Homo sapiens: one gene and its partner. The protein of the gene in region 1 interacts with the protein of each later gene in a pairwise test. Each region holds a gene or a part of one and is shown on either strand. Other genes may lie near its edges.

Evidence for each region.
Region 2: the proteins of ARL14 (region 1) and ARL14EP interact in binary tests that used the Homo sapiens proteins (3 or more experiments, as listed by UniProt).

What each region holds. Positions count from the first base shown.
Region 1 is NC_000003.12:160,675,955-160,678,948, forward strand, and holds ARL14 (ADP-ribosylation factor-like protein 14), read left to right. Parts: upstream 1-1,205; 5' UTR 1,206-1,392; coding exon 1,393-1,971; 3' UTR 1,972-2,494; downstream 2,495-2,994. UniProt on the Homo sapiens protein: GTPase that recruits MYO1E to MHC class II-containing vesicles via the effector protein ARL14EP and hence controls the movement of these vesicles along the actin cytoskeleton in dendritic cells.
Region 2 is NC_000011.10:30,325,807-30,329,840, reverse strand, and holds part of ARL14EP (ARL14 effector protein), read right to left. Parts: intron 2,836-4,034; exon of another isoform or gene 2,783-2,835; intron 1-2,782.

The DNA of each region.
Region 1 (2,994 bases):
GCTGTTTTTAGTCCTTTATTTCACCCCTTCTGTCTGCCATACCTGTCACCTCTTGTCTATCTCCTCTGCATCAGCACTCCAAGCCTTGGCTTTATCCTGCTATATCAGTTATCACTCATTTTTCCATCTAGTTTCCATTTTCCAGAATTTTGTTAAAATTTCTGACCCTTTGATGAATTATCTTGCTGTTTTGTTATGGATTTATATGTTTTTTTTGTTTTTTTTTTTTTGAGACGGAGTGTCTCACTGTCACCAGGCTGGAGTGCAGTGGTGCGATCTCGGCTCACTGCAACCTCCGACTCCCTGGTTCAAGCGATTCTCCTGTCTCAGCCTCCCAAGTAGCTGAGATTATAGGCACGGGCCACCACGCCCAGCTAATTTTTTTGTATTTTTAGTAGAGATGGGGTTTTACCATGTTGACCAGGCTGGTCTTGATCTCCTGGCCTCATGATCCACCCACCTCGGCCTCCCAAAGTGTTGGGATTACAGGCGTGAGCCACCATGCCTGGCCTATATGTTCTTTTAATGCCTTTACCATTATTCTGTGGAGTCTTGGGAAGGAGAGGAAATAAATGCATGTTTTTATTTGCCATCTTTAATTGGACTGCTTAATGTAAAACTGTTCGTGTTATAAATTCCCCCTCATATATTTGGTTTTGTGACTGCAGTAGTGTAAATTCTCTGCCTAGAATTTTAAAGAAAGTGATTCTGTATGTGATTAGGGAGTAAGGTTCAGATAACCTTGAGTGGTTTAAAGTTTCCTACTGAGTAATCTGAACAAGGCGGATTTAAGATACTGCAGACAGAGTGTGAGAATAACTCTCTCTTCACAACTTAAGAAGCCTGGTTCCTTATTTACAACTGGGATAAGATAAATGGTTGAATACCTAGAGAAGTTCCACAAAAAGTTACACAAAAAGTTTAGTTAAATTTAAGTTAAAAGTTAGTTAAAATGAAAAGTTAAGTTTTTATTCTGCTACTAAACCATGCTCCTCTGCGTGTCTGAACCTTCAGGTTCCTCTAGATTTCTAGCACCTGAAAGAAAACAAAACTGCAGCATCAGCCAGGTAGGCCTCTCCTAATCTTACTCATTCACAGAGAATTTCCCCTTTGAGTCACCATGGCATTGGCTGGTTACTCATACCACAGATCCCTCAGGATTGGCTGGGACTGCAAATAAAATACTGTTTGCCCATAATCAAGTTGATAAGCTACAACATAAACACATCTAGGTTCTTGTTCTTAGAATACAGCATGAAGAATTTGCTTTCTTCTTTCTTCCTAACATTTTCATGTGAGATCCAGAAAGGACACATTGTCTCTGGCCATTCGAAGAAAGAAAGAAAGAAAAAAAAAAAAGGTATTTAGAGACAGAGAGAGAAAAAGGCTGAAATGGGTTCGCTGGGTTCTAAAAATCCGCAAACCAAACAAGCCCAAGTTCTTCTTTTGGGACTTGACTCAGCTGGGAAGTCTACTCTCCTTTATAAATTAAAGCTTGCTAAGGATATTACCACCATCCCTACAATAGGTTTCAATGTGGAAATGATCGAGTTGGAAAGGAATCTTTCACTCACAGTCTGGGATGTTGGAGGACAGGAAAAAATGAGAACTGTTTGGGGCTGTTACTGTGAGAACACCGATGGGCTGGTGTATGTTGTGGACAGTACAGACAAACAGCGACTGGAAGAGTCTCAGAGACAGTTTGAGCACATTTTGAAGAATGAACACATTAAAAATGTGCCTGTTGTTCTATTAGCCAACAAACAAGACATGCCTGGAGCTCTGACTGCTGAGGACATCACCAGAATGTTCAAAGTGAAGAAGCTTTGCAGTGACCGGAACTGGTATGTGCAACCCTGCTGTGCCCTCACAGGGGAGGGGCTGGCCCAGGGGTTCAGGAAATTAACTGGATTTGTGAAGAGCCACATGAAATCAAGAGGAGACACTTTGGCGTTCTTCAAGCAGAACTGAGGCTGCGAAAAATCCAAGTCTCTACAGAGACACTGATGAAGTTGAAAGGGTAATTGTTTTTCCATGCCAAATGAGGAAATCAAATTAATGAGTTGACAAACTTTTCCTGAGATGTTATTTCATCTACATTTAGTTAAACAACTTAGAATGATATCTAGAAAATATTTATTTTCAGCCAGGAACTTTAGCAAACTGTGGCAATGATCACTGGGAATGAAAACGTATAATGTTCTACAATTTTTGTTATCACATTGGATGACTTTGAATATAGTAGTGACACTTGGGACCAAATAAATTATTTTATATGACTACTAGAACAAAGTTTTAGTAAGCTGTCTGCTAATAGAGTCAGAATTCTTCCAGATTGTTTCCAGCTGTAACAGGTATTGAATTTCCACCGTGCTCCTATGTAACAGCTGGGTGGTGTAAAAAATGAACTTCAAATTATGGAGTGGAAAAAGCGTAATGTTAATATCTTGTAAATTCGTATTCCCTATTAAATAAAGCTTTCTTATTCCCTAAATAAAGCTGTTCTTCTGGATTCCTGCCAGCTTTTTGAAATCTATTGCTGGGAACTTCCTCCAATGAATCTTAAACAATGAACTTCAGGCTGCTAATTGCTCAGAGCCTGTGTTCTGCCATAGGGAGCAGAAGTGTATAAACTTAAAGGTCTGGTGATCGGGGTAGCACCTTGGAGTTTAGGGCAAGATCTGGGCTCAGGGCTTAGCTCTAGGCTACAGCCCCGAGTCTTGCTTCCTTGGAATTCAGCTTAACAGCCATTGCTTGGAAACATATGTGCAGCTCATTGTACTGATCAAACAGGAACCAGACCTAGACTTTGCTCTCAGAGACCTACAATTCACAGCAGGAAACAACATAAAGCTAGTAGCTAGAGTAGGGCAATAAGTGCTAAGTGCGATTGCAGGAGATACTCTTTTTAACCAGGGAAACAAGAAATGTTTCATGCAGGAGATGGTATTTTAGAGGGTCCCTCACTCCCAGTGACCCTACAAAGGTACAGGT
Region 2 (4,034 bases), on another chromosome or scaffold:
TTGAAAGGTGTTAGGATTATTATCATAAATATTCGAGTAACTCCTCACTTCCAAAAATCAATTAGAAAATGACAGAGTCCACTGGAAAACTAAACAAATATAGTCAGGCAATTCACAGAGAAAGAGAACAAAAGCCAATACATGCATACAAACTGTTTCCCCCATAGTTCCTAGGAAAATGCAAATTAAATATCATTTATTAAACATTTGCTTGAAATCAATTTAAAAATCTGATATCTGGTTAAGATGTGTCCAACTCTCACATGCTCCTTATAATAACTTTGGTAGGAATGTAAATTGCTGCAACTGCTTTAGAACATTTTCTGCAATTTCTTGTAAAACTGAGGAAGCATACACCTTGGGACTCAGCTCTTTTCAGTTCTGGGTGTCAGATGGAGAAAAATATCTCCAATAAGAGCACAAGTTATATACGAAAACTTTCAGCATTCACTGCCTTTGGCAGTGAAAGATGACAAATAACCTAATTGTAAAGGATGTGAAATCGTTACTCATACAAGGGACTCCCACATAACAGTTAAAATGAATAAACTACATGAATTACGTGAATCAACATGAATAAATCTCAAAGACAATCTTAAGTGAAAAAAGTTGTAAAGGTTATATAGTATCATCATTAAAGGTAAAATTTAAAAAGATAAGATAGTACATAAGATTTACAGATGAAACATGAATATATACTAAAATATACATAAGAGTAACATATATCACATTTGTGGATACTTCTGAGGGGAAAAAACATTATTTTCCCCAAAAAGATTTACAGAAAATAAGGTTTGGTGACATGTACATAAGTGCTTCACTACTGTCCATACTTTCTATTTGAAATTTTTCATAAATAATTTTCAAAGCAAATTAAAAAAAAAAGTTGGATTCTCAAGAAAATATGCAACCAATGCAACTCATTAGGAAAAAATCTGCTGTTGAGAAAAAATGTGAACCACTGAAATCTGAGTGGTAGGGAGGGACTGTGAAGTCTAGGATTCAGCAATTTTACAAGTGTTTTTAAGCTTTGCAAAATTAAAAAAAAAACAAAAACTGGAGAGAAATCTTAAACACATTTTGATATGGTTTCTGCAGAGAAAAACAATAATCAGCAAAATCATATAAAAAGAAGACTCTGGCCTCAGGTAACAAAAAATGGCGAATAAATGTCTGTGTTTTAGGTCAAAATACTGTATTTACAAAGTTAAAAAATAAAATACACTTTAAAGTGTTAAAATATGTTACTGAACATTTTAACTGAAAAAAGTTTTAAAGCTGGTAAAAACAGAGTATATTTATATTCATTTACTGTGTTTTAGTCAGTTTTTAAAATGAACTAATACAGGTCCCAATCAAATCAGATAAAATGGCTTCTATCACAGTAATAATTAGAAAAGTTTCTTCTAGCCAGGCATTGTGGCTCCTGCCTGTAATCCCAGCACTTTGGGAGGCCAATGTGGGTTGATCACTTGATGCCAGGAGTTCTAGACTAGACTGGCTAACATAGTGAAATCTCGTGTCTACTAAAAATACAAAAATATTAGTCAGGTGTGGTAGTGCAGCTATATGGGAGGTTGAGGCATGAGAATCGCTTGAACCCAGGAGGCGGAAGTTGCGGTGAGCCGAGATCGTGTCACTGGACTCCAGCCCGGGCGACAAAGCGAGACTCTCATCTCAAAAAATAAAAAAATAAAAAAAATTTTTTTTTTCTTCAAACAGATAATTGGATTAAGATAAATTAAGGAGGAGAAAAAGGAAATCAGAGGTAAAGTTACAAGGCAACGAACTATGTGGCAATGTATATTAGCAAATAAGGGACACAATCTGGCTTTGACCTTTCTTATTTTTTATATATATTTTTTGAGACGGAGTCTCGCTCTGTCGCCCAGGCTAGAGTGCAGTGGCGAGATCTTGGCTCACTGCAAGCTCCACCTACCGGGTTAACGCCATTCTCCTGCCTCAGCCTCCAGAGTAGCTGGGACTACAGGTGCCCGCCACCACGCCTGGCTAAATTTTGCTTTTTTTTTTTTTTTTTGTATTTTTAGTAGAGATGGCGTTTCACCATGTTAGCCAGGATGGTCTCGATCTCCTGACCTCGTGATCCGCCTGCCTCAGCCTCCCAAAGTGCTGGGATTACAGGCATGAGCCACCGTGCCTGGCCTGACCTTTCTTAATACAAGGGAAACTAGGACAACTATCCCTCATCACTGTACAGAAAATAATGCTTAGTATTTTGTTAATGCCAGAGATTCTTTTTATTTGGAGGTAATCATCACCAGTTTTTAGCCACAGATCTATAATGGAACTTTTTTTGCCATAAAGCTATTTCCTAATATTCAAAACTTGGGCTACCATGGTCATATTTGATAGGAAAAGCATCTTGGATTTAGGAAACTAATTACTTTAGAAACCTTATCTGTCCATAGTAATAATACATTTTTACCCTTTAGGGTAATTTCATTTACTCTATTAATTTTAATTTTAGGTAAAAAATTCTTTTCCTTAGTTATTGGGGAGTCTCTGTTCCATTAGTTTCCTTTATTCATGGCTAAATTACTACAAAATTCAACAGAGTTCATCATGATTAAAGGAAACTAATGGAATAGACTCTGTAACTTGTGCCAGTGAAGTTGAATACCTATTTCTGAAATTCCTGGCCTCAAGTGATCTTCTCACCTCAGCCTTCTGAGTAGGTGGGTCCTGTAAGTTGTTTACAGGAAGTTCAGTTTTTCTTAGTAACAGGCAGCACATTGAGCTAGCACCAAAGATCTCTACTTACTGGATGCAGAAAATGGGGTCACCAGACTTGGCAAATAAAAAACGCAGGATGCCCTGTTAGATTTGAATTTCAGACAACGAATTACTTCTTTACAGGATCAGCTCATTTTAAAATTAAAATATCCTATCTGATAGAAGACATTGCCAACTGTGATAAAAACTAAATTTTACACAGATTAAAATTCAGCGGCAAACTAATCCCACTCACTTGAGTAAAACTGCACACACCTGAGTAAAACTGCACACACCTGAGTCAAGGTAGTTTTAAAGTCTTCCATAGGTTAGCTTTCTGATCTACGATTAGGCAGTTTGTTCACATACTGTCAAAGAGTCCAAGTCCAGCTAGCTCAAGGAACACCAAATTTCAGACACTGATCCTAAGTGGTCACTGTTTGCATTCTAAAAATCACACCCTCTGGTTGTTCCTCCTCTGTTATATTCCTCAATGTTCTCATTTCCAGCTCTTTCTGACTTCCTCCTATAAGCTAAAGTTCTGCATTTGGGCCTGTTTCCTAGCAACTGTTTTTGCTCATTTTGGTCTGTGTTCTGGCAATGTGGCCTACAGTTTATATTTTGTTTTCTTCAAATGACAGTCCAGCAAGTTCATATTGTTCCTTTCACCTACAGTACAGTGCTATGTTCTTCCATAACGATGATTTATCTGGCCCCTTCCTTAATATAGTTGGAAATGCATTACTGTTTACTCTCCCTGAATCAGCACTGGCATCAGCTGAGACCTCAGTAGAAATACAGAATCTCAGTATCAGCTCCAGACCCAATGAGTCAGGATCTGCATTTCAAAAAGATACCCAAGTGATTTGTAAGCACATTACAGTTTGCTATGTACTGCTTCAGATAATTCAATTAAAAAATTTAAATTTAAAATGTTTTGATATCTTCTATATTTTATAGAAGATAGCAAAAAAGAGTAAGAAAAACACAGATATGTATTTGCCTTACAGGAAGTCTAACTCTAGGGAAGATTATTGAGGGAGAGGAGATTTAAATTCGATACACTAAGGACAGAGAAAAACATCTGCTTCAATAGAAAACTGCACTGTTGAGAGCACAGCCTTTCAGGTTTTCACATTCTGATTACATGGGAAGTCTGATTCTTTCAGCATCTTGGAGCTATTTTACAACTGTCAACTGTAGATAACCAACAGCAATGCAAAATAATTGTCTGTATTCTTGTAAATTCTATCTGCTGAAGGTTCAATGGACTTCCGTCTGACTGTGGAAGCAGCCAATTT